Homo sapiens: one gene and its partners. Changing the gene in region 3 together with the main gene of any one other region gives a genetic interaction. Each region holds a gene or a part of one and is shown on either strand. Other genes may lie near its edges.

The links. Genes that interact genetically often act in the same process or in processes that back each other up.
Region 1: changes in CAMK2A (region 3) and EHMT2 together harm fitness less than expected from each alone (positive genetic interaction), as found in Homo sapiens cells (one large-scale study listed by BioGRID).
Region 2: changes in CAMK2A (region 3) and BSG together harm fitness less than expected from each alone (positive genetic interaction), as found in Homo sapiens cells (one large-scale study listed by BioGRID).
Region 4: changes in CAMK2A (region 3) and AOC3 together harm fitness more than expected from each alone (negative genetic interaction), as found in Homo sapiens cells (one large-scale study listed by BioGRID).

What each region holds. Positions count from the first base shown.
Region 1 is NC_000006.12:31,883,964-31,887,698, reverse strand, and holds part of EHMT2 (histone-lysine N-methyltransferase EHMT2), read left to right. Parts: intron 1-39; coding exon 40-122; intron 123-597; coding exon 598-704; intron 705-801; coding exon 802-924; intron 925-1,016; coding exon 1,017-1,118; intron 1,119-2,643; coding exon of another isoform or gene 2,644-2,682; coding exon 2,683-2,787; coding exon of another isoform or gene 2,788-2,808; intron 2,809-2,899; coding exon 2,900-3,054; intron 3,055-3,139; coding exon 3,140-3,307; intron 3,308-3,494; exon of another isoform or gene 3,495-3,735. UniProt on the Homo sapiens protein: Histone methyltransferase that specifically mono- and dimethylates 'Lys-9' of histone H3 (H3K9me1 and H3K9me2, respectively) in euchromatin.
Region 2 is NC_000019.10:579,096-582,830, forward strand, and holds part of BSG (basigin isoform 1 precursor), read left to right. Parts: intron 1-404; coding exon 405-561; intron 562-1,283; coding exon 1,284-1,366; intron 1,367-1,550; coding exon 1,551-1,687; intron 1,688-2,219; coding exon 2,220-2,496; intron 2,497-3,210; coding exon 3,211-3,235; intron 3,236-3,418; coding exon 3,419-3,482; 3' UTR 3,483-3,487; intron 3,488-3,654; 3' UTR 3,655-3,735.
Region 3 is NC_000005.10:150,254,329-150,259,896, reverse strand, and holds part of CAMK2A (calcium/calmodulin-dependent protein kinase type II subunit alpha), read left to right. Parts: intron 1-2,279; coding exon 2,280-2,334; intron 2,335-3,065; coding exon 3,066-3,131; intron 3,132-3,251; coding exon 3,252-3,324; intron 3,325-5,568. UniProt on the Homo sapiens protein: Calcium/calmodulin-dependent protein kinase that functions autonomously after Ca(2+)/calmodulin-binding and autophosphorylation, and is involved in various processes, such as synaptic plasticity, neurotransmitter release and long-term potentiation.
Region 4 is NC_000017.11:42,854,199-42,856,646, reverse strand, and holds part of AOC3 (amine oxidase [copper-containing] 3), read right to left. Parts: exon of another isoform or gene 2,200-2,448; coding exon 1,914-2,199; intron 1,254-1,913; coding exon of another isoform or gene 1,204-1,253; coding exon 1,074-1,203; intron 373-1,073; coding exon 97-372; 3' UTR 1-96. UniProt on the Homo sapiens protein: Catalyzes the oxidative deamination of primary amines to the corresponding aldehydes with the concomitant production of hydrogen peroxide and ammonia. Has a preference for the primary monoamines methylamine and benzylamine.

The sequences.
Region 1 (3,735 bases), on a different chromosome or scaffold from region 3:
AGCTCCCCTTCTCTCCCCGCTCCCGTGCTCCCTTGGCAGGCGGAAGAAGCTCCGTTTCCACCCTCGGCAGTTGTACCTGTCCGTGAAGCAGGGCGAGCTGCAGAAGGTGATCCTGATGCTGTGTGAGTGCCACCCATTCCTTCAGCAGACCTTGACCAAGCTTCATGTATATACCAGGCACTGGGTACAGGGCCAGGAGTACAGTCGTGAAGGACACAGTCCTTGCCCTGAAGGACTTAGTGTGGTGGGGAAAAGACACATGTAACCCATAACGATGGGGATGTGGTGACTCATAGGTGCTGGGTCCTGTTCTGAGTGCTTATACCTGTTAGCCTTGGCTTGCACAGAGAGGTTAGGGACCTTGCACAGTGCACAGTGGTACTGAGAAGCAAGGCAGGGTTTGAATTCAGGCAGAGCTGATGCCTTTGACTCCTTATTCTGATAAATGCTGTGGTGGAGGCAAGCTCGGAGAATGCCAGGAGGGGCCCTGATCCAGCTTGGGGCCCTGAGAAGCCTTCCTGAAAGAAGTGCCACCTGCCCCCTAGCTTGCTTACCACTTGTCCCTCCCTCTCCCGGTGTGGCGGGCTCTCCCCGCAGTGGACAACCTGGACCCCAACTTCCAGAGCGACCAGCAGAGCAAGCGCACGCCCCTGCATGCAGCCGCCCAGAAGGGCTCCGTGGAGATCTGCCATGTGCTGCTGCAGGTCAGCACGGGCCCGGCCCCATGCCTCATTCACCAGGCCCTTAGGCCCCTCCCCTGCCCCATGCCTCCCTGGTGCCAGCCCTCCTGCCCCCTCACAGGCTGGAGCCAACATAAATGCAGTGGACAAACAGCAGCGGACGCCACTGATGGAGGCCGTGGTGAACAACCACCTGGAGGTAGCCCGTTACATGGTGCAGCGTGGTGGCTGTGTCTATAGCAAGGTGTGCGCGCAGGCAGCAGGGCGTGGCCCCCGGAGTCAGGGACCAGGTTTGGGGTGCCAGCCCAAAGGCTCATTTGCCCGTGTCTCCCTCAGGAGGAGGACGGTTCCACCTGCCTCCACCACGCAGCCAAAATCGGGAACTTGGAGATGGTCAGCCTGCTGCTGAGCACAGGACAGGTGGACGTCAACGCCCAGGTCAGCGGCCCACCCAGCCCAGCCCCTCTGGGTCCCTGGTGCCTGGGTTCCTTGGCTTGGCCTCAGGCTTTGGGCCGCCTTTCCTACATCTGACCTCACACTGCTCGTGTCTGTCCTCATTGCTTTCTTCTTCCTCATTTGTATTTCTCTTCATTCTTTTCTTTCTCGTTTCTTTCTCTTTATCAAGTTTCAGAATAATCAGTTCCTGTCTTAATCTCTGAAAGTGTCCAGTGAGGCTTTTTATTAACTCTTGGGTTGTCATACATTGGATGTGTTTTAGTCATTTATTGGCATTCTTCTCAGTCTTTGAATTATTCCATCATTGTCCAGAAGAAGCCCCTTTAAGAGGCCTCTGTGGCTGTGACATGACCCAGTGGCCCAGTGGCCTTTGAGAGCCTCCTGACCTTTCAGCACATTTCCTGCCCCCAACTCAGAATCCACCATTTCTCTAAGAAACTCTGCTTCCTTTATGGGAAACTTTTTTTTTTTTTTTTGAGACGGAGTCTCACTCTGTTGCCCAGGCTGGAGTGCAATGGCGTGATCACAGCTTACTGCAAGCTCCGCCTCCCAGGTTCACGCCATTCTCCTGCCTCAGCCTCCCGAGTAGCTGGGATTACAGGCGCCCACCACCATGCCCGGCTAATTTTTGTATTTTTAGTAGAGACGGGGTTTCACCATATTGGCCAGGCTGATCTTGAACTCCTGACCTCGTGAGCCACAGCGCCCGGCCAGAAGCATTTTTTAGAGAATACAATCTATGTTCCTAGGAGTGTTTATTGTTATTGGGTTGTCGCTGCTTCTAGGACTTTTGAGTGGGCAGACTTAGGAAATTTTTGTTCGTTTTTTCTTTTAAGAGACAGGGTCTTGCTATGTCACCCAGGCTGAAGTACAGTAGCAGTTCACAGACAGTCATAGCTCTCTGCAGCCTCGAAATCCTGGGCTCAAGCAACCCTCCCATCTCAGTCACATGAGTAGCTGGGACTACAGGCATGCACCTCCATGACCAGCTCCTGGCTGTATTTTTTGGAAAGAGAACAATTACTTTATTTTCTCTCTGGCATCAGATGGTAGACGCTACTAGTCCCATTTTTGTTTGTTTGTTTTTTGAGACGGAGTCTTGCTCTGTCGCCCAGGCTGGAGTGCAGTGGCACGATCTTGGCTCACTGCAAGCTCCGCCTCCCGGGTTCACGCCATTCTGCCTCAGCCTCCCTAGTAGCTGGGACTACAGGCGCCTGCCACCACGCCCAGCTAATTTTTTCTATTTTTTAGTAGAGACAGGGTTTCACCGTGTTGGCCACAATGGCCTCCATCTCCTGACCTCGTGATCCGCCCGCCTCGGCCTCCCAAAGTGCTGGGATTACAGGCATGAGCCACCGCGCCCGACCCTACTAGTCCCATTTTTTAGATGAAGAAACTGCGACCCAGAGACGTTAAGTGACTTACCCAGGGTCCCACAGCTTGTGAATGGTGGAGCTGGGATTCACACACACAGCCAATCTTGACCATTTGCTGCTTTGGTGAGCAGGGCCAGCTGCCCCCACCCTCACTCCCTTCCCACCCACAGGACAGTGGGGGGTGGACGCCCATCATCTGGGCTGCAGAGCACAAGCACATCGAGGTGATCCGCATGCTACTGACGCGGGGCGCCGACGTCACCCTCACTGACAACGTGAGTGAGCGTTTGGTTGAGGTAGGGCAGCCCCAGGCCCCTGAGCAAGGTGGAGGCTGGATTCAAGGGCCCAGCTGCCTGCACCTCATCTGTTCCCCTCCTACCTCCACAGGAGGAGAACATCTGCCTGCACTGGGCCTCCTTCACGGGCAGCGCCGCCATCGCCGAAGTCCTTCTGAATGCGCGCTGTGACCTCCATGCTGTCAACTACCATGGGGACACCCCCCTGCACATCGCAGCTCGGGAGAGCTACCATGACTGCGTGCTGTGAGCCCCTGCCCCGCCCTTGATGCCCCTGCCCCCACTTCTTGCAGCCTCAGACCCTGCATTGGGCATCCTGTCCCCTCTTCAGGTTATTCCTGTCACGTGGGGCCAACCCTGAGCTGCGGAACAAAGAGGGGGACACAGCATGGGACCTGACTCCCGAGCGCTCCGACGTGTGGTTTGCGCTTCAACTCAACCGCAAGCTCCGACTTGGGGTGGGAAATCGGGCCATCCGCACAGAGAAGATCATCTGCCGGTGAGCCCTGGGCCCCTCTCTGCACCCAAGACCACCTCCTCCCCACCCATACCCTCCCCAGGCTCCATTGCATCCTCACAACATTCCCCAACCCCTCCCCATGCACCACTGAATCCCCAGAACCACCCACAGGCCCCCTCCCCACTAGGGTTGCCAGATACAGCAAATAAAAATAGAAGACACCCAGTTAAACTGGAATTTCAGATGCACAGATGCATACTTTTTTAGTGTGAGAATGTCCTGTGTAATTTTTGGGACATACTAAAAAGCTATTTCTTGTTTATCTAAAATTCTATGTTAACTCGCTGTCCTGCATCTTACCTGGCAACCTTACTCCCCTGCCCCCAGCCCCAGGAACCTCCCCAACTCTCTTCCTTATACCTGGAGTAGCTCCTCACCCCCTTTTCCAGCTTCCCAGCCCCTTCTTC
Region 2 (3,735 bases), on a different chromosome or scaffold from region 3:
AGCTCGATGCCCTGGTCCCTGCTCAGGGACGTGGGTGGGTGCCTTGTCTGTCCCCACACCCTGGTCCCAGCCTCGTGTGTCTCTGGGCAGGAACATCGCCAGGCGGGGCCTCTGGGTTCCCAGCGCCTTAGCCCAGGGCCCGCCAGCTGCCAGCGAAGGGTGCCTTCCCGAAGGGGGTGCCTTCCCGAAGGGGCCTCCTCAGCAGGCGCTGGGCTCTTCCCTTCCCGGAGGCGTGGCCAGAAGTTCCCCTTGGGCCTCCGGTCCTCGGGGCGTAAGGGCCACGGTGTATTTTTGGGATGAAAACCAGTCCTTCCCGGGGAGGAGCCGCAGGTTCCTGGGGGTCAGGCAGGCAGCGCGGGCCGTGCTCCTCCACTCTGCTGACCGCGTCTCGCCGGGCCTTGCAGCCGGCACAGTCTTCACTACCGTAGAAGACCTTGGCTCCAAGATACTCCTCACCTGCTCCTTGAATGACAGCGCCACAGAGGTCACAGGGCACCGCTGGCTGAAGGGGGGCGTGGTGCTGAAGGAGGACGCGCTGCCCGGCCAGAAAACGGAGTTCAAGTGAGTGCCTGACCACGCCATGCCGCCACCTGCCCCTTCTCACGGCTCTCTTGCCGCCAGCGGCCTGTGGTCCGTGAGAACAAAAGACCGGTCGGCAGGCTTGATCCAGGCGGAAGTTAGGGACCAGCTCCGCGCAGACCCCCAGAGGGAAACCCCAGGGAGGGGTCTGAGGGGCGTCCTTGTGAGGCAGGGGGCTCCAGCAGCCCTGGCAGGAGTCCCCATTGCTTGCTCCTCACTAGGTCCCGGGCACGAAAGGGCGCCACACTGCCAGGTCCCGGGCACGTGTGCGGGCCTCCCAGGCTCTGTGCTCCTGGCACAAGAGGGCACCACACTGAGGCATGCCCTGCTCGGACCCCAGACGCTGTCATGGCCGGAGCTTTGTCATAACTGGGGCTGGGACGGCCCTGGGAGCACAGAGCCTTTTGTTTTCAGGCTGACTGGGAAGACGGTCACAGGGTGTGGGGTGCAGAGCAGGGACCAGAGGTGTGGGGTTCATCAGTCGGGGAGAAGGGGGTCTGTTGGTTCTCTCACCTGTGGGGTCTTGCCAGCCTGGCTCTGTCCTTGGGGCCGCACGGGGACCCCAGGAGTTCTTTTGAGGTTCAGACTTGACTGGGACAGTTTTGCTTTTTCACTGTGCCGTGGTTGGGCCCCTGGAGAACCCTGGGTCCTTGGAGGCGTCCTGCAGAGCTGGTACGCGGCTCACCTGCCTGCTGTGGTTGCAGGGTGGACTCCGACGACCAGTGGGGAGAGTACTCCTGCGTCTTCCTCCCCGAGCCCATGGGCACGGCCAACATCCAGCTCCACGGTGAGTCCTGCAGCCAGGGGTACCGGGCACCACCGACTGTCGGGAGAAGTTGTTGGCCTGAGGCACCCGGCACATCCCAGAGCCCTGGCCCCCTGCTCCCTGGAGGGGAACAGCCCTCCTGCGGGAGGCCGGGGATGGGGGCGGGCCTGCGGTTCCAGGCTCCTCTCTCTCACCCTCCTGTCAGGGCCTCCCAGAGTGAAGGCTGTGAAGTCGTCAGAACACATCAACGAGGGGGAGACGGCCATGCTGGTCTGCAAGTCAGAGTCCGTGCCACCTGTCACTGACTGGGCCTGGTACAAGATCACTGACTCTGAGGACAAGGTGAGAAGCCAAGGAGGCTGGGGGTCCTGGACCCAGCCCTCAGGACTGGGTGAGAGGCCTAGACTGGGGGTCCCGGACCCAGCCCTCAGGACTGGGTGAGGGGCCTAGACTGGGGGTCCCGGACCCAGCCCTCAGGACTGGGTGAGGGGCCTAGACTGGGGGTCCCGGACCCAGCCCTCCGGACTGGGTGAGGGGCCTAGACTGGGGGTCCCGGACCCAGCCCTCCGGACTGGGTGAGGGGCCTAGACTGGGGGTCCCGGACCCAGCCCTCTGGACTGCAGCCCTCCAGACTGGGTGAGGGGCCTAGACTGGGGGTCCCGGACCCAGCCCTCAGGACTGGGTGAGGGGCCTAGACTGGGGGTCCCGGACCCAGCCCTCCGGACTGGGTGAGGGGCCTAGACTGGGGGTCCCGGACTCAGCCCTCCGGACTGGGTGAGGGGCCTAGACTGGGGGTCCCGGACTCAGCCCTCAGGACTGGGTGAGGGGCCTAGACTGGGGGTCCTGGACTCAGCCCTTGCCTTTGGTCCCCTAGGCCCTCATGAACGGCTCCGAGAGCAGGTTCTTCGTGAGTTCCTCGCAGGGCCGGTCAGAGCTACACATTGAGAACCTGAACATGGAGGCCGACCCCGGCCAGTACCGGTGCAACGGCACCAGCTCCAAGGGCTCCGACCAGGCCATCATCACGCTCCGCGTGCGCAGCCACCTGGCCGCCCTCTGGCCCTTCCTGGGCATCGTGGCTGAGGTGCTGGTGCTGGTCACCATCATCTTCATCTACGAGAAGCGCCGGAAGCCCGAGGACGTCCTGGATGGTGAGCCGTCTGCCCTCCTGCCCACATGCCCTGCTCTCGGGGTGGCCCAGGGCCACTCCTGGTCCGTCCCTGCCAGCCCCACCGCTGACCCAGAGCTTGGAACTGAGGAGCCCCAGGCAGGGAGTTGATGGGACCCCGAAAGAAAGTGTGGGATGGAGGGTCTAGCCCCGGGCAGCTGCGGCTCAGTGGGCAGCGGGACCCCGGGAGGAGGAGGCGGCACCTCCGCCCCACAGCCTCACCCGGCCCTTCCCTCCCGCTCACTTGGCTGCAAGCCAGTGTCCTCCGTGGTGAGCCGGCCCTTGCTGCTCTGCATGATCAGGCTCGGGAACCTGAGGTCAGCCATGCTGTGCTCCGGCAGCCCCTGCCTGCCTCCTCGCGGAGCCCTTCTGCCCCTTGGGCTGCGTGTGCCGGGGCGAGGCCTGTGTGGGGCCTGTGATGGCAGCTCCTGGAAAACGCTGTGGGGCAGGGGTGAGGCCCACGAGGCCATGGGGACAGCTCACCATGGGGAGCACACCTGCAGGTGGGGAGGGCTGCCTTTCCCCACAGCACTCAGAAGATGCACGTGGCCGGGGCTGATGAGCTGCCCCGAGCCACCCCTGGGGGTCACTGAGGGCAGGGCTGGCAGCACAGATGCCCCTGCTCGGGGCCTGAGTGGGGCCAGTGCTGACAGGCTGTCCTCTCGTCCTCTTTTTCATGGCGGCGGTCCTTCTTCAGATGACGACGCCGGCTCTGCACCCCTGTAAGTTCCAGCTGTGGGGGTCGGGGGTCCCAAGGAGCGGCCTGCTGCCCCAGGCCTTTAAAACACAAAGGCAGAGCCCCTGGGCTTCAGTATTCGGGGGTCCTGGGGGCCGGGGTGGGCAGGGGTGACTTGGAGAGAGTGACTTGCGGGGGACACCCTCTCACCCGGCCCCTCGTGCCCCAGGAAGAGCAGCGGGCAGCACCAGAATGACAAAGGCAAGAACGTCCGCCAGAGGAACTCTTCCTGAGGCAGGTGCGGTGGGCGGGAGCTCCTCCTGAGCCAGGTGTGGTGGGTGGGTGGGCGGGAACTCCTGAGCCAGGTGTGGTGGGCGGGATCTGCTAGCCAGGTGTGGGCTCCTGGGTCCCGCCTGTGGGTCGCTGGGAGGTGGGTCCAGTCTGAGCGCCCCTCCCTGTCCACAGGTGGCCCGAGGACGCTCCCTGCTCCACGTCTGCGCCGCCGCCGGAGTCCACTCCCAGTGCTTGCAAGATTCCAAGTTCTCA
Region 3 (5,568 bases):
CCTGGGTTCAAGCAATTCTCCTGCCTCAGCCTCCCGAGCAGCTGGGACTCCAGGCGTCTGCCACCACACCCAGCTAATTTTTGTATTTTTAATAGAGACGGTGTTTTGCCATATTGGCCGGGCTGGTCTCAAACTCCTGACCTCAGGTGATCTGCCCACCTCGGCCTCCCAAAGTGCTGGGATTACAGGCATGAGCCACCGTGCCCGGCCTGAATTTTTTATAAAAAAATGTTGAAAGGAATTAAAGCAGAATTACATGTGCCTTTAAGATTTTGCTTTAGAATATATTTAAAACATCTTTTAGTTATTATTTATAAATATATATCATCATTAAAGAATGTTTTAAAATTTCATTTTATTATTATTGTGATTATTTTGAGACATTCTCACTCTATTATCTAGGCTGGAATGCAGTGGGGCAATCTTGGCTCACTGCACCCTCCGCCCCCTGGGCTCAAACAACCCTCCCACCTTAGCTTCCCAAATAGCTGGGACGACAAATGCCTGTGCCACCATGCCCAACTAATTTTTGTATTGTTTGTAGAGATGGGGTTTCATCATGTTGCCCAGGTTGGTCTTGAACTGCTGAGCTCAAGTGATCCACCCACCTCAGCCTCCCATAGTGCTGGGATTACAGGGTGAGCCACCGCACCTGGCCTAAATTTTTATTTTATTTTATTTTATTTTATCTTATTTTATTTTAGTTTTTATTTTTTTGAGATGGAGTGTTGCTTTGTCGCTCAGGCTGTAGTGCAGTGGCACGATCTCGGCTCACTGCAAACTCCACCTCCTGGGCTCAAGCAATTATCCTGCCTCAGCCTCTGGAGTAGCTGGGATTATAAGCATGGGCCACCACACCCAGCTAATTTTTGTATTTTTAGTAGAGATGGGGTTTCACCATGTTGGCCAGGCTGGTCTCAAACGCCTGACCTCAGGCGATCCACCTGCTTCGGCCTCCCAAAGTGCTGGGATTACAAGCGTGAGCCACCGCTCCCAGCCTAAATTTTCATTTTAATCTGTGCCCCTTCCCTCTCCATCTCTGGTGCCCATCCACCTCTCCCTACTGGCATCAGCTCTGGGGTATCTGATGCCTGCCTCTCTCCAAATTTTATGTGCAAATACGACAGCCATAAACAATTCAGGGGACTCAATATTGAGCCAGAAATATATGCACATGGCAAACATTCAGATGGCACTAGGATTCATAGTGAAAAGTGAGTCTCCTCTCATGACCCAACTCCCCCAATTCCCCTCCCCAGAGGCACCCTCAGTGCCTGCTTGTCTGTATTCTTCCAGAGAGACTTATGCCATATATAAACTTAAATACATCCTTTAAAAAAGTACTACGCATACTGTTTTGCACTTTGCTTTTTCACCAAGCAACATAATTTGGAGATGACTCTGAACCAGTAGATACATAACTGCCGCATTATTTTAGCAGCTGTGCCATTTTCCATTGTGCGGATGAATCGTCATTCACTGAGCCAGCACGCCCCTGCATGGACATTTTTAGGCTGTGGTGCGGGGAAGGATGTGAGCCCTGTCCTGTGAGACTTGCTCTTGACTGACAGGATGTGGTCCCAGAGTCAGCCCCAGGACTCAGGCCCTTCCTTCTAATAGCTCAGGGGTGCATGCTGGGAGCCCTGGGCTCCTGGGAGCTTTGCCTCTGTTCTGGGTAAATGGGGTGTGAAGAGATGACAGCTCCTCAGCATGCCAGAACGCAGGGACCCTTTCACTCCTGCCTCTGGCCTCCATGCTCCATTATCTCCTCAGACTTGGGAGCAGAGCAGGATATTAGCTCAGGCAGCACTGAGTGAGCACCAACTGCATGCCTCCTGGAACTCTCATAACAAGCCTGCAAGTCCAGGAGTTTCATTCTCATTGTCCAGGCAAGGAAAGAGAGGCTCAGAAAGGCCTAGCAACTTGCCAGAAGTCACACGGCTAGTAAGTGGCAGAGATTGGAGTCACAGGCTTTCCATGACTTGGGCCTGCCCAGCAACCAAACAGGGTTTCGGAGAGGGGAGGGCGCTAAACTCTGACCTAAACAGGCATCTTTCATGTTGAAGCCCAGCCCTCTTTCAGTAATGCCTGAGGTCTATTCGGACTCAATGCAGTGAGCCCTTGTTCACCAGCGCTTGTCAAAGCACCTGGCACCTGGTGTATACTCAGTGACTGTCTGGGAGCGGGGGGTGTTGGATATACACGGGAGGGGAGAGAGGGAGGGCGGGCCTGTGCAGCAGTGTGTCCCACTGTAACCAACTGCCTTGCCCCGCCCACAGTCCGACTACATGACAGCATCTCAGAGGAGGGACACCACTACCTGATCTTCGACCTGTGAGTTTGGCCCCGCCCTGGGATGCGCCAACGGTGTTGGGGCTGCCTAACCAGTGATGGCCTCACTGGACCTCTTGGGCTGAATTCCCTCTTGTGGTCCAGAGTTTCCCCAAATGTGGTGGGCCTGCCACCCAAGCAGTGCAAGCTGACTTTCCTAAAACACCAACAAACACTTTTAGCTTTCATCCTATATTTATTTTTGCTTCTCTTCTATTTGTGGCCAGTGATGCTGGTTTTCCATTTTCAGTGGCAATATAAAGTTTCCTTCTGGAATATGTTTAATTTTTTTTTGAGGAGTGTTGATTCAAAGAGAAGCAATAATGAAATGATAGGCCACAGTAGTTCCTGGTATGGCAATGAAAATCAGTGATGGGGCCAGTCTCATCGATAAAAAATAGCCTTTGAGATATTGATCATGGGGGAGGCCATAGGCTTCCTAATGAGCCTAGTGATGTGCTCTGACTTTCCCTAACCTCCGGACTCCAGCCTGGGTTAGGTGGGGAAGAAGGGCCGGGGATGGAGGAGGAGAGGGGACTGGAGTCAATGGAAGGGTGCTCTGGAAGACAGGAAGGGCATTGCAGCAGGGGACACCCCCGTGACCCTGGGGCCCCTCCTTTTGTGGCTGAGGTCCTGAGGTCCCTGGGCCCCATCCTTAGTTTCCTGGAGACTCCTCCAGATGAGGCAGCACCTGTCGCCTCTATTAGAGGGTGATTCCATGCCTGTCTCCCCAGGGTCACTGGTGGGGAACTGTTTGAAGATATCGTGGCCCGGGAGTATTACAGTGAGGCGGATGCCAGGTGAGTGTCAGGTGCTGCCTGGCAATGGCACCCGGGGACAGGGCACTCTTGCCTGCTGTCAGCTTCCCAGGGGAGGCCTGTGCTCACACCACCATGACCCCTTCCTCTCTCTCTCCCTAGTCACTGTATCCAGCAGATCCTGGAGGCTGTGCTGCACTGCCACCAGATGGGGGTGGTGCACCGGGACCTGAAGGTGAGCAACCCACCGTGGGTGTGGCTCACCCCGGGAGCCCCTCTCTCCTCTGCACGTCCCTAATCCTGCAGAGCTGGACATTATCAGAATCGCTTTAATTTCTCTGTGTTAGGCTGGAAGGTGGGGTGGGTGAGATTATTTTCCCCACTGTTCAGATGAGGAAGCAGAGCTCAGGAAGGTAGAGCGTCTGTGTTTGGGCCCCTGCTCTTCCAACTCCCAGCCCACATGCTTTGTGCCAGGATGGGTGAGCTGCAGTTATACTGTCATGACTGGCTACGGTGGGTGGGGAAGAAGGCAGGCTGGGTCCAAATCTCAACCAGGCCACTTTCCAGCCATGCAGCCTTTAGTAGCATGACCTTCCTGAGCCTCAGATTCTTCACAATGGGGGTTGCCATAGCAACCTCTGCAAAGGGTTGGTGAGGATATGAAATGAGATAGCACGGGGCCTGGTATACAGATGCATTCTTAGTCTTGTTCCTGCATCTCTGGCAGGCCAGGGGAGAAGAAAAACCAGACTCTAGGCCCGTGCAGTTCTCCTTTCTTTTACCTGAAGGAGATTGCAGAGTCTAGGACTGGCACCAGCTGCACAGCCTTGCTCCTTCAGCAGGGACTTCATGGATCTCCGCTGCTGATCCTCATGGTATCAGTGGCTGGTAGTTCATATTGTCTCCATTTTGCAGAGCAGGAAACTAAGGCCTAAGAGTTCAAGCAATTTGCCCAAGAACATGCAGTTCAATTGTCCTTAGCTAGGGCGGGGGAATTCTGGCCTTCTAACCCCTGATCCTGTGACCTTGGGAGTCTGGTGCCAAAAGGTCACTCTATCCAGCTCCTGCTTCCTCAGCAGCCCCTTCTAGGGTGACCCTGCCAGATGTCCATCAAACCTCTGCTTTTTGTTCTTCAGTGACAGCAAACTCACTTCCCATGGGGTAGCCCCTTGCACCACTGGGGAACACTCTTCCCTGCTGGAGGGGCTTTGCCCTGAACCTCAGTTCTGCCATTTGGAACCACACAGAGACCAAACCTCCAGCTTGGAAGAGCCCTAGACGGACTCCAGCAGCTTTGTTGTAGCTGCTAAGTCCCCTGCAGGGTGTACCCACCCCTGCCACGGTCCTCCCGGAGTGTGATTTTCAGGCCAGCCTCATCCTGGGCACCTTCCCTGGGCATGCTTCCACTGGTCTGGGTCCCTCTTTGGGGCACAATGCTCTGAAGAGAGACCCTGCCCCTCTCTGACTGTCCTGGGCAGACACGGCTTCTCTCCTGAGCCCTAGGCAAGCTCCCTGTGGCTCAGTCTAGATGAGACGAGTGTGCACTCCAAGAGGGTCTCCAGCCAGACTGCAGGGCACCTCTCCCAGAGGGCCTGTTCCCATTATAGCTGCAGCCCCTGCACTGGAGGAGGAAGGAGGAGAGGCAGCCCAAATTTAGGCCACTCTGGATATAATAATTAGTGACACATTCATCAAATCAGGGCAGGACGGTTACCGAGACCCAGGACATGTTAGGAACATTGTCCCCAGAGGACAAAGGAGGCCTTTGAGCCAGGCGGAGGGAGCTATATTTGTTTGGGTCCAGCCTAGCTTTAGACAGTGAAAGGTCAGAGGTGGGACCCTTCAGAAGTCCCACTGGGAAGGGGATCAGAGGAGGACTCAAAACCAACAGTCTTCAGAGACTCTGAGCCCCTCCCCAAGCCAAAAATAGAAGTACTAACATTTACCAAGCACTTACTGTAGGCCACAGCGAAGTGCTTACACAGATTATCTCAGTTAATCCATGCACCACCCCATAAGGTAAGCATTTTTCTCAGAGGAAACTAAAGCTCAGAGAAGTGAAATAATTTGCCCATATGTCATGGCATAGAGGTGGGCAGCATCGGGATCAGAAACTGGGACTATCTAAGCGAGCCCACAGTCTTAGCGCCCCTCCATCCTGAGTCTCAGGGTGAAGGGACCAGCAGGAAGTGGAGGAATTCTGGAGGCTGAGCCAGTGCAAAGCAGCAGCCTCGATGCCCAGAGGCCAGGTGTGGGACCTTCCCAAGTCAGCTGCTGGCCCCATGTATAAGCCTCATCATCTTTCAGCCTAGAGCAGTTAAGATAGAGTCAGACTTTGCCTCGATTCTGGCTCTATCCCTTACCAGCTGCGTGATCTTGGCCAAGTCACTTAACCTCTCTGAGCTTCAGTTTTCTCATCTTTATATACGTGACAAATACTTATTAAGTGCCTGCTGTGTGGCCCCCCAACCTAGGTGCT
Region 4 (2,448 bases), on a different chromosome or scaffold from region 3:
AGAGGGAACCAGGCTGCCGGCCCAGTGCCCAGCTGCTCCCCATCCCTCACACCCTGGCCCTGGAGCCCTTGGCCACATGCCCCATCCCAGGACCGCCTAGTTGTGAGAGAAGCCCCCGTGGGAGAAGGCAGGGAGGTCGGGGGCACAGGCAGCAGCCTGGGGCAGGCAAGCTAGGGGGTTGACCTCGCAGGCCCCAGCATCCTGGTCCCCTCGGAAGTAGATGGAGTCGGCAGAGTAGAAGGAGGGGTCTTCGTCAAAGAAGTTATAGGGTCGGAGGAAGAAGCCCACGCCGTTCCCCACAGTCACTGTGTTAGGAATGTCCTCTGCATGTGGGATATGCAGAAAACCAGCTGTCACCCAGGCCACCAAATCCTAGCAGGGGAGAAGAAAGAGGATCACGAGGTCTGGCTTTGCTGAGGACATGCCCTGGTAGGGATTCAGCTCACCAGCCCAAGGATCATGAGTCTTTAAACATTTTTTCCTGCTGGGTAGGAGTCAAAGCATAAGTAGTCCATTTCATATTAGGAACACCTGCTTCCCTGTCCCTGGCTTGCAGCCTCCATCTCTGACATTTCCCATCATATCGCCCATTGCCTATCTACCCCCAGAGGGTGACACCCACAGGCTACTTCAGCTCCTCTTCCCCTAACTCTCCAAGAGTTCCCCACAACTGAGGAAAGAAGGGTGGAGGAAAAAGAACCAGCGCTTGGGAAGCAGAACCAGGCCAACATTGTGAAATTCATCAAGTCAGGAATGGGAGAAGCTTCAGATACAGGAGATGTCATTTTCCCTGGTAACTTCCATCCCTCCTGAGTCCTGGAGCCTGGAAAGGACTCAGTCCATGAAACTGGAACTAAGAGGGCTCTAAGATCTCAAGGACAGGCCCAGGGCCTCACTCAGTGTCTGCATATGGACACCCAGCTCAGGAAGGTTCCCTCAAAGGATAATGATCAGATATACTGAAGTGCAGAAGGCAGGAATCAGCACCACCCCTGAGAAGTGCAGGTGGTTTTCAGGGACCCTCCCAAGAGAAAGCAAGGCTCATCCTGTACCCTCTACCCCGGCCAGCTGACCTTTCCAGCAATGGTCTCATTGTTGATGAAGTCACTGAAATCCACAGTGGGGGCCCAAGGGTCATTCTGATTGAAAACGCTGCTGCTACTGGGCTCCTCCTCCTTCCGCTGGGTCACAGCCAGCTGGTACCTAGGGAGGCACTGGTCAGGCCTCCATGGCCATTGACCCCATCCTGCTGCCTGATTATGATGAAAGGGAACTGAGTGCTCAGAGCTCAGCTTCCCCAATTGCAGTCACACAACTGACTCGGCGCTACAGAATCCCCGACGTCACCCTAAGGGGGGTCAAGTCCTCCTGTTTATCCCCAGCCATTTAACAGTACAACCCCTCTCCCATCCAAAACAGAAGAGAGTTCTCACTCCTGGGCTTTAGCCTCCAAGGGGAAAATGTGCCCATCATGGTTTCTTTGGATAACTAGAAAAACCTTTGGCCAGGCATTGTGGCTCATGCCTGTAATCACAGCACTTTGGGAGACCAAGGAGGGTGGATCATGAGGTCAGGAGTTCGAGACCAGCCTGGCCAACATGGTGAAACCCTATCTCTACTAAAAATACAAAAATTAGCCATGTGTGGTGGCGTGCACCTGTAATCCCAGCTACTGGGGAGGCTGAGGCAGGAGAATCGCTTGAAACTGGGAGGCGGAGGATGCAGTGAGATTGCTCCACTGCACTCCGGCCTGGGCAACAGAGCAAAACTCCATCTCAAAAAAAAAAAAAAAAAAGGAAAAGAAAAGCCTTCCTGAGAGAGCTCTCCCCTCACCTACAGTGTGAGCTGAGTGTCCGCCAACACTCCTTTCCCACTCTCACTGCCCCCCTCCTCTCTGACTGCCCGCCACTCACCTCTCCCAGCTGAAGCCTCTCGCCATGGAGCTGTTTTGGGGCAGCGGCTCTCCAGCAAAGCTGAGCATCTGGATGCGGTAGCCCCGGGGGTGACCCCACTTGTTGCTGTGGTTGCTGGCCAGGTACAGGTAGCGAGGGGTGGCGCTTCCCACGAGGAAGGCGGCCTGCTCCTCCATCTCCAGCAGCTTCCGGGTCACCTGCAGCCTCTGCAGCTGGTGCTCAGGGCTCCAGGGCACAGCCATGGGGACAAAGACCATATCCTCGGCCCAGACCCAGTTCTCCAGTCCTGCTCAGGGTGGGATAGGGGAGGGCCTGTCAGGCAACTGCCCTGGCCCCTCTGGACTCTGCCCCCATCTGGCTTCAGAGTGGGGGCCAAAGAGCAGCCCAGAACTGAGTGTGCCCCTCCTTCTCTTCCCTCTCCCCAGGATACCTCCAATCCTTTAGCCAAAGCTGTTGACCTGTAAATTAAAATACTTCATCAGGGAGTTCATTCCATTTCACTCATTCATTCTTTCAACATTCATTAGCAGAGAGG